4 linked regions of the Homo sapiens genome follow. The protein of the gene in region 1 purifies or fractionates together with the protein of each later gene. This does not show direct contact. Each region holds a gene or a part of one and is shown in the gene's direction. Other genes may lie near its edges.

What was found.
Region 2: the proteins of DOCK3 (region 1) and YME1L1 purify together in Homo sapiens (affinity purification with mass spectrometry, with the first as the bait; one large-scale study listed by BioGRID). This does not show direct contact.
Region 3: the proteins of DOCK3 (region 1) and GCN1 purify together in Homo sapiens (affinity purification with mass spectrometry; one large-scale study listed by BioGRID and IntAct). This does not show direct contact.
Region 4: the proteins of DOCK3 (region 1) and SURF4 purify together in Homo sapiens (affinity purification with mass spectrometry; one large-scale study listed by BioGRID and IntAct). This does not show direct contact.

What each region holds. Positions count from the first base shown.
Region 1 is NC_000003.12:51,381,313-51,384,698, forward strand, and holds the end of DOCK3 (dedicator of cytokinesis protein 3), read left to right. Parts: coding exon 1-247; 3' UTR 248-2,886; downstream 2,887-3,386. UniProt on the Homo sapiens protein: Potential guanine nucleotide exchange factor (GEF). GEF proteins activate some small GTPases by exchanging bound GDP for free GTP.
Region 2 is NC_000010.11:27,151,585-27,155,681, reverse strand, and holds the start of YME1L1 (ATP-dependent zinc metalloprotease YME1L1), read left to right. Parts: upstream 1-1,297; 5' UTR 1,298-1,471; coding exon 1,472-1,504; intron 1,505-4,097. Other genes in the region: MASTL (serine/threonine-protein kinase greatwall), read right to left, coding at 70-255. UniProt on the Homo sapiens protein: ATP-dependent metalloprotease that catalyzes the degradation of folded and unfolded proteins with a suitable degron sequence in the mitochondrial intermembrane region.
Region 3 is NC_000012.12:120,135,716-120,139,215, reverse strand, and holds part of GCN1 (stalled ribosome sensor GCN1), read left to right. Parts: intron 1-359; coding exon 360-521; intron 522-800; coding exon 801-893; intron 894-1,171; coding exon 1,172-1,315; intron 1,316-1,401; coding exon 1,402-1,671; intron 1,672-1,896; coding exon 1,897-2,010; intron 2,011-2,483; coding exon 2,484-2,714; intron 2,715-3,500. UniProt on the Homo sapiens protein: Ribosome collision sensor that plays a key role in the RNF14-RNF25 translation quality control pathway, a pathway that takes place when a ribosome has stalled during translation, and which promotes ubiquitination and degradation of translation factors on stalled ribosomes.
Region 4 is NC_000009.12:133,363,513-133,366,060, reverse strand, and holds part of SURF4 (surfeit locus protein 4), read left to right. Parts: intron 1-32; coding exon 33-76; intron 77-1,034; coding exon 1,035-1,221; intron 1,222-2,301; coding exon 2,302-2,548. UniProt on the Homo sapiens protein: Endoplasmic reticulum cargo receptor that mediates the export of lipoproteins by recruiting cargos into COPII vesicles to facilitate their secretion.

The sequences.
Region 1 (3,386 bases):
GGCCCAGCCATGCCGAAGCCACTCAGCCCCAGGGTGCGTCATCCCTCAGGACCCCATGGACCCGCCTGCGCTGCCGCCCAAGCCCTACCACCCCCGCCTGCCGGCCCTGGAGCACGATGAGGGGGTGCTGCTGCGTGAAGAGACTGAGAGGCCTCGAGGCCTGCACCGCAAGGCTCCATTGCCTCCTGGGAGCGCTAAGGAGGAGCAGGCCCGCATGGCCTGGGAGCACGGCCGAGGGGAGCAGTGAGGGGCAACGAGGCGGCTGGGATGCCGCCCTCAGTAAGCAGCTTGCCAATCACTCCAGGTCTGAAAAGCAAGTCCCCCAGCCCCACCCCAGGGAGCCAGAGAGGCTTGCACTCAGGAGAGAACCACCCCCAAGTCTCCGTTCTACTGCCGTGAACTCATGTGTTGCCATGTACAGAGGCCACAGCAGCATGAAGGGTTGTGGCTTCCCTTTTTATTTTTTTACATTTCCATTTCTATGGGTTTTCCTTTCTTTCCTTTATGCAGTAGATGCTTTCTTCCTCCTGCAGTTCTGGACCATGTGGAGCTACATGGAGAAATTGCACAGACAGAATCACTTTGCCACACTGCAGGGCCCAGGAGTGGGAGCCCAGGCCCTCCCTCCAGGGTAGAGATGCACCGAATGGAAATTGCACTAAGGACCTCTTCCTTTGCTGTATGGACAGAAGAGTTCATGGTTGCATTCAGGGATTGCAAGGACCATATAGACATGTCACAGGTGGAAAAAGGGCCACAAGCCGTTTTGCACAAATGCCTGCCCACCTGCCCCTCTTCCATCCAGGAGTGTGCTACTGAGGGGCTGGCTGGACCAACCTGCTGGCTCAGGCATGTGACTGGCCTAACTGCATGCCCAGGGCACTGCCAGGGTTCAATGGGCCAGCCGTCTCCTACTCCACCTTGGATTTTTCTCTCCATCACATCATTTCTGACCATTTGCTCCCTTCCATTCTTGAAACACCTCATGCCCCACAGGAGCCCCAGTGGTGACTGGATCTGCAAGGGTTATCTCCCGCCCTCTGGGGTTTGAGTGGAGGTATGGAGCCAGAGAGGCTATCCTAGCTACCTTCCTCCTAGGGGGAGCTGGTCCCCTTCCTATGTGGTAGAGAGACTGGTGTAAGAGTGTGGGGTGTGGCAGGCGCCGGAAATCCTCAAAGCTTTCAGAAGCATCCAGAATGCCTACCATCAGCTCCTGAATCAGGGATTTTCAGCACTACCTCTGAGCCATGGGGTTGGCTGCCCAGCCAGGCTTCCAGGCCCTGAGGACATGTGGTCAGGTTCAGCAGGCTCCTGGGTAAAGAGGGTGGGAGGGGGCTTCTCCTTTTGGAAGCAGATAGCCATGCAGGTAGAATTGTCATCTCCCAAGTGGCCACATACAGCAACCCACTCCAGGCCATGGGGACCACCACTCAGGGTTCGGGGCTGGCAGGAGGGTAGTTTCTCCAGTCTCCCCAGTCTGTTGGTGTCTTTATAGGAAACTATAAAGCAGAGCAGTGGTGTCTTTAGAGGAAACTCATTCAAGTCAGGGCACTGATTTTCCTCTCAGTTTATTATTTGGGGGGATAGGGTCAGGTGGGTATAGTAGTACTTTACCAGGGTGCTTTTAAGTTACTTTAAAAAAAGCCTACAAAATATTTTTTTTCTTTTATTTGCTCGAGTTCACATTAATGATGGTCACAAGGCTGCCTTGTTGGGCAGGCGTATTGCCCCCAGTTCCTCTTCTGCTGGCCTGTATGACCTCCACAGCCAGGCCCTGGGCCCAAGCCCCTTGTCCCTTCTCCACTGCCCCTCTTTCCAGACAGTAAAGGCCATGGTCAGTGTGTTTTTCTCTTGTAAACAAACCCCAGCTTGTTTAACAGAAATGCTAATAACCTACTGGGAAAGATGGAGGTCTAAATTACCTCCAGGGTTTTTCTGGGGGTTTATCACCAGTGTGGGTCCCTTCTGATACCACCAGGTTCACTCCAGGCAGAGTGGGGCGGAAGGCTGCTGAGGATATGGGTCAGTTACAGCAGCCCTCACCTCAAAGGGCTGGCCTGCTTCTCAGCCTACATTCATTTGCAAGCTTCAATCTCTGGACCATCTGGTGTTCACAGGTGTTAGAGGGTTAGGGGTTAGGGGCTAGTTTTGGATTTGATTCATAGGTAGGAGGGCTTAGATTTTAAGGCACTTCTGAAAGTCAATCCCTGGACAAGGCAGTCATCACATAAGAACAGCTACCTTCTCCACTTGGTGGCACAAGAGGTAGGGAGGGGAGTATGGGTTCATTTGGCTTCGCATTATGCAAGGTGAAACCGTTTGTTTTCCCTCTCCATTTTCCCTAACTAAATGAAAAGGACACATTCTGAAATCCCTTTTGTTGGAGAATAAGTCAGTCTGAGGGGAAATGGGAGGCCAGAGATGAGAACCCTTTGAAAAGATTGTAAAATACTGATTTTCATTCTTTCAAGCTTATTTGTAAATACCTATTTGAATGCTGTGTATTTGTACAGGAATTTGAGCAAAAAATGTATAGAGTGTGATGTCCAATTGGTATTCAGCACTATAAATGTGTTTTTAACCTCCCGCATTCTGTGCTTATTTAAAACAAGGAAACTTCTAACCATTTCTTTTGTGTATTCATGTTTAAAGAAAAAAAGTGATTTAAAAATGATCTTACCTGTACCAGAAAAGCAAAGTTAAAGGAAACAAAATTTGTACCATTGTCCCAAGAGGTATTTTACTGTATATATTGTGGTAGCATGTTCAAAATCCAACAAGTAATGTGAATTTTAGATGTAAATATCTGCCACTTGATTTTTTTTCCCCCTTTCCCCACTTCCTTGACTGCTGTGATGTGAATTAAAGATAAATACGTGATACTGATCCACTGAATTCACTGAATGGGAGCAGAGGATGTGCCCCTCTCCAACCCTTGTCGCCGGGCTCCAAGCCCTTTTTAGCCCTATAGACATGTCCTTTTTGCACTGAGTAGAGCCAACGGTTCCCGCATCCTGCCTTGAAGGCAGGCAGCCAGGAGGGCACTTGAAAGGAGGGCAGTCGAAAAGGAAACATCCTCCAGTGCTTCTCTGGTGATTCCCGGGACCCCACTCAGGAGGTCCCACGGCAGCGGGGGACCCCGAGGGCCTAGCCGGGGAGGCAGGAGGAGGCTGGCCAGCCACCAAGCCACGATTCAGAGCTTGTAAGGGCACCTCCCGAGCCCCTCACCTTCCCACTCTGAGGCGACCCCATGTCCTCGACCGATGATCTGGCCCGGGCGCTTCCCTCCACGGTCTAGAGTGGCGGCCCAGCTTTGAGCTTGGCGCGCCTTGAGCCCTTCCTTCAGATGTCCCGCAGTCCGTCCACCCCGCACGTCTCCTATCAGC
Region 2 (4,097 bases), on another chromosome or scaffold:
CCAAGCCGGTGGGGCAGGAAGGAGGGCCGAAGGGCCTAACCCCTTCCTTGCTACTCGTTGACTTCCTACCTTTACTGCATACAATTTGCCGCCTTTCTGCCCCAGATACACTTTCCCGAAGGCGCCCCGGCTAATGGGCTTCACTATGCTGAATTCCTCAATGGAGGGCGGTTTTGGCACTGCGATCCTATTCACGCCCTCCTCAGTCGCCGCGCCTCCTCCAGGCTCCTTCTTGCTTCCCGCGGTGGGATCCATCGCTGGACAGCATACAGCGGCCCCGCAGACACTGCCCCTCCGCGAGCAGCCACTCCCGCCAACTGGGTTCAAAGTGAGGCTCCGCCCACGCCGCGCGCGGCCGTGACGTCACCCCGCCGCCGCGCCCCGCCCTCGTCACCTCCCCTACGCAGACGCGGACGGAGGGGGCGTCGGGAAAGCCCCGACTTCGCAGCCTTACACTCTTCGTGGGCGGCGACCGCGGCCCCACTGACATCATTCCTCATGAGGGAGGAGGCACAAACAGTTCTGGGCCGACCAGAAAAAGGACGACTGGGACTTGACTCTGAATCGCAGGATTTGAAGAGATTTCTCCTGGCTTCCCAACGAGGCTGGTGGGAAGCGGTCCTCCTCCCATACACGACCTCCCACCCTCGCGAGGCGTAGAAACCAGTTCTGACTGTACAGTAAAGCGAGGGCCAGGGCTGAGGTCTGGAAGCTAATGAAAGCACAGAAAGTGTCGAAACTGGATGAGCAGGAAGCGAGTGGCCTCCCCTGTCATCTGACGTTTTCCCAGGATGTAATTTGCCTGACTGAAACAGATCAGGACCAACAGGGAGAGTTTTCGATTTAGTGTGAGGAAAAGAGCACTAAATTGTAGCAAAAGACCTTATTGCTCAAGGCCCAGTCAGAAGATTTCATAAGGAAGCTGTAGAAAGTCTTAAGAGGAAATCAGCCGGGCGTGGTGGCGGGCACCTGTAATCCCAGCTACTCGGGAGGCTGAGGCAGGAGAATCGCTTGAACCCGGGGAGCAGAGGTTGCAGTGAGCCGAGATCGCGCCACTGTACGCCAGCCTGGGCGAAAGAACGAAACTCCGTCTCCAAAAAAAAAAAAAACGAAGAAAAAGTCCAAAGAGGGTAAAGGCTGTTCTCCCCTTAAAAAACAGCTAAAGACCTTTGGGGGCGCTGCTCCTTGTAAATGTCAACTACTTCCGCGGGAAAGAACGCGCAGGCACTTGGCCTTGTGGGCGCTCACTTGCCCCGGAAGTACTGTTGAGTTAGCGCCTCGCCTTCCGGGGCGGATTGTCTGTCGTTGCAGTAGCTGTAGGAAGGGGAGGCCATTTTCCGTTTCTGGGAGGAGTGAGGGGCAACGGGTCGGAGAAAAAGGAAAAAAGAAGGGCTCAGCGCCTCCCCGCCGGGCCGTGGACAGAGGGGCACAGTTTCGGCAGGCGGGTGAGGTCGCTGAGGGCCCGCCGGAGATGTTTTCCTTGTCGAGCACGGTGCAACCCCAGGTAAGCCAGGCATTCAGCCCATTTTTTTTCCTCCCGCCCTGCCCGTGGCTGTTTGCAAATTGCGCTCGTGGAAGCGATTTCTCAGAAGGGACTCTAGAAATGAAGTGATGTACTCAATGCGAATCCCAGGATTGAGGAGTGGATCAGGGGACGACGCTGAGAGTGGGCCGGAGACTTCAGTGCTGACGATGAAGCTGTTGAGGGCAGAGGCGGGATGTGAGCTCAGTGATAGAGAGAGACCCTGGCTTATCGAACTGATTGCGTGGAATTTCTGCTAGAGAATCCGTCCGGCATTGTTCAGTGTCCGGCGTTCTGGGGTGGGAAAATGTCTGTACCATACATTAAAGGGAGCAGGTAATGTTCCCTTTTTTCCGACTTTCCAGTGGCTTTAGTGTTCACAGCCCCTATCCCCTGCTCTTTATTTCCTTTTAAATGGAATTTAAATTTAACCCAAACATGGTATAATATTTCGGATGGCCAGCCATGCAAGTTTTTTTCTCATTTTGACCAGAAGTAACTAAAATGTGTATTTCCGAGTCGTAAACTGTTTGCAGTTAAAATTTTGATTCAGCCTCATCCTCATCGTTTTGTAAAACAAAAGGTAGTGAAGAGAAAAATGATTTCAAGGGTTTTCATTACGCTCTTGGGCAATCACTTGTGACAATGTTTTATTCTTGCTTCATTCCAGTCTCTTTTTTTGATGGTAACATTTTAATAGATTTTTTGAGAGTTCCTACAGTTTTGCAAAGAAATAGTTTTTAAAACATTGAGTTTTTTTAAAACATAATTTTTAAGAAAATCGACACTCTTAGGTTCTTGATTTAAGCATATGATTGTGTTCCTTTGTGTAACTTTTACTCCCCCTCATTTTAAGAATTTTTAATTTTTTGTGCTAGTACTGGCTAACAAACTGAAGCAGCTGCTTGTTATTGGGCATCAGTTATGTACCAGGTGAGCAAAGCAAATGTGGAATCTTCTCTTAATATTGATATGAAGTAAATATGAGTAGGACTTAGCAAGGTGAAGAGTGAACAGGTATCACAGGCATACAGAAAAATACCTGGAGGTCCTGAGTTAGGAAAGGGTTTAGCAGGTTGAAGGAACAAAAATAAGGCTAGTGTGGCTAGAACATAGTAGTTAAAGGGGGTAGTGACAGAAGAGGTTGGAGAAAAGACTTGAGGCAGATCATACAGGGAGTAAAGGATATATTATGGCTGATTTCATTTTAAGTGTATTGGGAACCATTGAAAGTTTTAAAACATGATTAGATTTTCATTTTTAAGAGATGACTGGCTTTTGCTATATGGAGAATAGGAGAGGGCAAGAGTGGAAGATGTTATCAGCTAAAAATACCCACCCACCCCCCAATTAAAGCTGTTGCAGTGGTTATGGAAAGAAGAGAATGAGATATATTTTGAAGAAAGTGGAATTGCATGAGAGATCAGAGAGATGATGGGGAGAGGTGTTTCTGGGTTTGATCAGATGAATGCATTGAAGGTGCTATTTACCAAGATGACAGTGTCTGGAGAAGTCCTAGTAATTGTTTGAAAAAGAAGTCTGACATGGCCTATTGAATATGGTATTGAAGTTTTTGAAACTCAACTCTTTGCCTTAGTTCACATCAAGAGGCCTGATTTTAGGAGAATTTACCATCAACTGAATGGACAGTTAGTAGTATGTGATGTTGGTAGAGATGATAAAGGGATTTTTATGTACCCTAGGCAGTCTTAACAGGGCTCAAATATAGTGAGGACTCTCAGGCATTTCTTGCTTTGAAGGATGGTAACACATTTGGAATTCCTTGTTGCTTAATTGGTTGAATACACTTGAAATTAAATGGTAAAAAGGAAGACACAGAAAATGAACTTTTTCATTGAGAAGAGCTCAACTCTAAATCCTTTTGTGAAAGAAAAGAGATATAACTAATTCAAATAAAAGAGATATAACTAATTCAAATAAATCTTTTCAAAGAGGTAGAAAATATGTATCTTGAAATGATTTGATTATTTTTAAAGTTTCAAAAGAAGTTACTGTTTATTTTTTTTTCTTTTTACTGCCCCCAGGCTGTAAGGAACTTACTGTTTCTTTCTGACTCTAAAAATGATACATTGCTTCACTTGACTAGCCTTAAAACAAATCCATGTTTTTTTGCTAAAAATGCTGAAAGTATAAATAAGATCGCCCATAATCTCATTACTCAGGGATACGTATCTTAGACTAAATTCTTTCACACATTTTTTTCTATAAACAAACACGGGTATGCATACTTTTTTTTATTTTAATTTTTTTTTTTTTTTAAGATGGAGTCTCGCTCTGTCGCCCAGGCTGGAGTGCAGTGGCGCGATCTCCGCTCACTGCAAGCTCCGCCTCCCAGGTTCACGCCATTCTCCTGCCTCAGCCTCCCAAGTAGCTGGGACCACAGGCGCCCGCCACCACGCCCGGCTAATTTTTTGTATTTTTAGTAGAGATGGGGTTTCACCGTGTTAGCCAGGATGGTCTCCATCCCCTGACCTTGTGATCCGTCCGCCTCGGCCTCCCAGAGTGCTGGGATTACAGGCGTGAGCCACCGCGCCCCCACGGGTATGCATACTTA
Region 3 (3,500 bases), on another chromosome or scaffold:
GCCTCAGCCTCCTGTGTAGCTGGGATTACAGGTGTGCACCACCACACCCAGCTAATTTTTGTATTTTTAGTAGAGATAGGGTTTTGCCATGTTGACCAGGCTGGTCTCGAACTCCTGGCCTCAAGTCATCCGCCCACCTTGGCCTCCCAAAGTGCTGGGATTACAGGTGTGAGCCACCGTGCCCGGCCCCTTCTCTCCTTTTTTTTATTTCACAGTAAAGAGTTAAGTTAAAAGACAAGTCAGGCAAAGAGAGTTAGGGTGGCCTAGCTGGGTCAGAGTCCCCTGCCTGTGCTTCTTGTCTGCTTCTGCTCCTTCTTTGCCTTTCCTGCATCTGGTACAGTTGTAGCTTGCCATTGCAGGTGCTGTATTTCTCTGAATCCCTCGTGCCCACGGCAAGGAAGGCTTTGTGTGACCCACTGGAGGAGGTCAGAGAGGCGGCAGCCAAGACTTTCGAGCAGCTGCATTCCACCATCGGCCACCAGGCTCTGGAGGACATTCTCCCATTTTTACTAAAGCAGCTGGTGAGTGGATCTACCACACACCTACCTACCAGTTTGGCTTTTGCCGTCTTTGTAGATGGAAAATACAGGGCGATTATTCTGCCAAGGCAGTCGCAATGTGGGCCCTCCAGAGGGAGTGGGTATAGCAAGATCAGACTTGGCTTTGTGCTTCGCCTTCGGCAGTGAGGAAATGTGGGTGCAACAGGAGGGAGGGAAACAAGTGGAGAAGGAAGTTGGCGGTGGCTGGTTGAGACAGCAGAGATGCAGATTCCTCAGGGTTGTCCCCAACACCCTCTGCAGGATGACGAGGAGGTGTCAGAGTTTGCCTTGGATGGTCTGAAGCAAGTCATGGCTATTAAGAGTCGTGTGGTGCTGCCCTACCTTGTGCCCAAGGTAAATCCCAACATGTGGTCAACACCCTCTGGCTCCAGGGCATTGACATTTCCAGGGCCTGCAGTGAAGACCAGTTCTGAACGTAGATGTTGGAGGGCTGGGGGAGGAGGGTGCAGTGCAAGCATTACATCCTTCCCCTGTTGTCTTCCAAGATATGCTGGAGTAGATGCTTGGCTCTGAGCAGTGGGCTTGGGCTCTCTTGCCCACCCGTCTGTTCCCAGAGCCTAGCGCAGCACCTGGCACAGTATTCACTGAGTTAATGTTTGTCATTCCACCAGCTGACAACGCCACCTGTCAACACCCGGGTGCTGGCTTTCCTTTCGTCAGTGGCTGGTGATGCCCTCACCCGTCATCTTGGCGTGATCCTCCCAGCGGTCATGCTGGCCCTGAAGGAAAAGCTTGGGACCCCAGATGAGCAGCTGGTAAGGGGCGAGCCTGCTCCTGCTTTCTCATGTCCCGTCTGCCCGGAGGATCCCTGCTCAGCACACATGTCCCTTGTGGTTTGCAGGAGATGGCCAATTGTCAGGCTGTGATCCTCTCCGTAGAGGATGACACAGGGCACCGGATCATCATCGAGGATCTGCTGGAGGCCACCCGCAGCCCTGAGGTGGGCATGAGGCAAGCTGCTGCCATCATCCTCAACATCTACTGTTCCCGCTCAAAGGCTGACTACACCAGCCACCTGCGGAGCCTGGTCTCGGGCCTGATCCGCCTCTTCAATGACTCCAGCCCTGTGGTTCTGGAGGAGAGCTGGGATGCCCTAAATGCCATCACTAAGGTGAGGGGACTGCTGACCCCACAGCCAACTTTTGCTTTTAGAAAATTCCAGACATTTACAGGAATAGACTTATAAGAATCCCCCACGTACCTGTCACTCAGCTTCGGCGTTTACCCACTCGTGGCAAGTCTTGTTTATACTCCCGCCCACGCTTTCCCCATATATTCTTTGGAAGCAGTCTTGAGAGGGCTGTACATCCTCTCGCTTTTTCCTGGATTCCTGCAGAAGCTGGATGCTGGCAACCAGTTGGCACTCATTGAAGAGCTGCACAAGGAAATCCGGCTCATAGGGAACGAGAGCAAAGGCGAGCATGTGCCAGGATTCTGCCTCCCGAAGAAGGTAAGCCAGGGCCTCGTGCAGGGGGCTGTGGGCGTGCAGTCTGTTGTGCCCTTCTGGCCCTTACCCCTGTCCCAGGTCTGCGGTAGGGGCTGCTGGAGCAGTAGCCGTGGTGGTTGGTGTTCAGCACCTTCGCAGACAGCATGTTTTCTTCCATGGCAGTCAGATGGGGACAGGGTTCATGCTGCCTTTGGTTTAAGCTCTGCAGGTCACCTTGGCCAGAGTGAGTGGGCCACAGGGTAACAGCAGTGCATGTTCTCTCTGTGTGATAGGCCTGTTGGGGCCCTTGTCGTCTTTTCTCTGCCAAGACCGTTCCATAGCCAGCCCTCTCAGGCTGTGATCCTGAGATTCAGCCCAAATCAATATCTCCCATGGAGTTGAGGGGAGGACAGCTGTCAGGACCACTTTGCTTGCATGGGAGACACCAGGGCCCAGGGTGTTTGAGATTTGACTCTCAGTTGTGGTTCTCTTGTCAGGGAGTGACCTCCATCCTTCCAGTGTTGCGGGAAGGAGTCCTGACTGGCAGCCCTGAGCAGAAGGAGGAGGCAGCCAAAGCCTTAGGCTTGGTAATCCGCCTGACCTCGGCTGACGCCCTGAGGCCCTCCGTGGTCAGCATCACTGGCCCTCTGATCCGCATCCTGGGGGACAGGTTCAGCTGGAATGTGAAGGCGGCTCTGCTCGAGACACTCAGCCTCTTGTTGGCTAAGGTGAGTGGCTGATGAGTTTGTTCAGATCTTAGAGAACAGGTCTGTCTGCAGGAGCCTGATACAAGGTGTCATGTAGCAGCAGGGCAACAGATTTATTGTGGAGAGCCGCATAGCAGAGGGAGGTAAGACCTTGGACTTCAGACATGCTACACCATGGGTCAATTCCAAGTCGTCCTTACTAGCTCTGTGACCAGGATGACCTTGGGAAAGCCATATAACCTAAGCCTGTTTCCTCACCTACAATGTGAGACTAATAATACCAGCTGCCTCATGAAGGGCTGCTAGATATGGGGATTAGATGAGGTTATGTCCAGCATGATGCCTGCTACATACTAAGCACTCAGTACATGTGAAATGCTATTATTTTGAAAAACTACTTTTTCAAAGGAAAAAATTCAGGACCACGTAAATACAAGGAAAACATTGTTTAAAGATATTGCAGTTTTTGTTTTTTTTTGTTTTTTGTTTTGTTTTGTTTTGTTTTTGAGACAGAGTCTAACTCTGTCACCCAGAGCTGGAGTGCAGTGGCGCGATCTCGGCTCACTGCAACCTCCGCCTCCTGGGTTCAAGCAATTCTTCTGCCTCAGCCTCCCAAGTAGCTGGGATTACAGGTGTCTGCCACTACACCTGGCTAATTTTTTTGTATTTTTAGTAGAGACAGGGTTTCACCAGGCTGGTCTCGAACTCCTGACCTCGCACAGCTCAGATTTACCAGCTCCCCCTATCCCCTTTGTGTGCCTGCCACAGCCTGCACACCCACCCAACTCCAGTATTTCCAGACCTTCA
Region 4 (2,548 bases), on another chromosome or scaffold:
GACTCAAGTATCTCTCTCTTCTTTCCCCTCAGACGATTGCCTACAGCATTTTATGGGACTTGAAGTTTTTGATGAGGTATGTGCATTCTGGTTGGTTTTAGTATACGCTCCTTCTACAGGTTGAGCATTGCAAATCCAAAGTCTGAAATGCTCCAAAATGGGAAAAATCTTGGGCACCAACATGACGCTCAAAGGAAGTGCTCATTGGAGCATTTCAGGTTTTGGATTTTCAGATTTGGGATGCTCAGCCAATAAGTATATAATGCAAATATACCAAAATCTGAAACACTTTGGGTCCTAAGCATTTCAGGTTAGGGATACTCAATCTGTATTTCTAAACTCAGTTAACTATTGGTTTGAGTAGACTTCTCTGGGTCTAAACCAAGCTTGTCCAGCCTGTGGTCCACGGGGTGAACATGGCCCAACACAAACTCAAAAACTTTCTTAAAACATTGAGAGTTTTTTTTGTGATTTTTAAGTTTTATTTTTTAGCTCATCACCTATCATTAGCATTAGTGTATTTTATGTGTGGCCAAGACAGTTCTTCCAGGGTAGCCCAGGGAAGCCAAAAGATTGGACCCCCCTGTCTAAATTGTGCCTCTTAGAAACAGGTTCTGAAGAGGATGTTGCAGAGCCCCTAGAATAGTAGAGACTGAAGCCGTCTCTTCTGACCCTTATTTCACGGGTGTGGGGACTCCGGGTCTGAGTGGAGGACAGACCTGACCACGGGGACCCAGCTGGTCAACACTGAAGCTGTGACTAGGACTCGGTTGTGTGTGTGTTCAGGTAGCCTGTCACTGTCGAGTTGTAAAGATACCTCTGTCTCCTGAGCTATGTAAGGTTTTACATGGGTGTAACTCGAGTCTGAGGTCCTGTGCGCATGCCTGCCTGGTCCTGCTTGGCAGATCACTGGGTTTGGAGAAAGGGAAGTAAGGGCCTTCTTATACTGGCAGCAAGGTCTCCCTGCACCTGGTCTCACAGACAGGCCAGATCCTGGTGAGGCTTAGCTTCCAGCCCACATATCTGTTCCTCAGGAACCTGGCCCTGGGAGGAGGCCTGTTGCTGCTCCTAGCAGAATCCCGTTCTGAAGGGAAGAGCATGTTTGCGGGCGTCCCCACCATGCGTGAGAGCTCCCCCAAACAGTACATGCAGCTCGGAGGCAGGGTCTTGCTGGTTCTGATGTTCATGACCCTCCTTCACTTTGACGCCAGCTTCTTTTCTGTAAGTATTCCTACTTGCCTGAACCGGTCTGGTTTCCTGTGAATGCTGTCCCTCCCCCACCCCCTCCCTGCTCACCCCTCCCTGGTTGGGTATTAACCACAGCCTGGGGGAGCTGCTGAAATGGAGCAAACTTTTTTTTTTTTTTTTTTGAGACGGAGTCTCGCTCTGTCCCCCAGGCTGGAGTGCAGTGCGTGATCTCGGCTCACCGCAAGTTCCGCCTCCCGGGTTCACGCCATTCTCCTGCCTCAGCCTCCCGAGCAGCTGGGACTACAGGCGCCTGCCAACACGCCTGGCTAATTTTTTGTATTTTTAGTAGAGACAGGGTTTCACCGTGTTAGCCAGGATGGTCTCGATCTCCTGACCCCTCGTGATCTGCCTGTCTCAGCCTCCCAAATTGCTGGGATTACAGGCGTGAGCCACCGTGCTCGGCGGAGCAAACTTTTTGATCCCATTAAAACAGACCAAAACATCGTCAATCTCTTGTGTGTCAAGCCTTCTTTCCAGCAAATGAAGGCCAGAACCTCTGACCTTGGTGGAGTGTGCTTGGCCCTTGGTTGGCCAAGGCTCTCCACCCGGGCTCCCCTTACTCTTCTTTCTTTCCTCACTGTTCGTATCTTTCTCAAGTAATTCCTGTGTGTCAGGTGTCAGGGGCAGGCCTCCAGGAGCTTCCAGAGCACACCTCCGGAGCTGACTGAGAGCCCTGGCCGGGTAGTGTCCAGGAAGAGCTCCTGGCGCCATGGAGAGAGGAGAGAGGATGTTTCTGGCCTGGATGGCTGGGTGGGCCAAGAAGCACTTGGGAATTTAGTTATGGATTAGAGATTCATCTTGGTAAATCACAGCCTGTTACTAGTTGGGAACTTCAGTCTTCCCCAAACCTTCCACATTTCAAAGCTGGTGCTTTATTGCCTCCTGCCTCCCTTTGGCTTTTATCTCCCTACTTGCACCAGCAGCCGTCTCAGCAGTAGCTACATCAGCCTGATGGATAGAGACTTCATGACGTGCAGCAGCTGGAACTTTTGTTTATAAAGCATCTCTTTTCCTCACATTTATTTTGAATTTCTTACGTTTCAACCTATGCAGATTGTCCAGAACATCGTGGGCACAGCTCTGATGATTTTAGTGGCCATTGGTTTTAAAACCAAGCTGGCTGCTTTGACTCTTGTTGTGTGGCTCTTTGCCATCAACGTATATTTCAACGCCTTCTGGACCATTCCAGTCTACAAGCCCATGCATGACTTCCTGAAATACGACTTCTTCCAGACCATGTCGGTGATTGGGGGCTTGCTCCTGGTGGTGGCCCTGGGCCCTGGGGGTGTCTCCATGGATG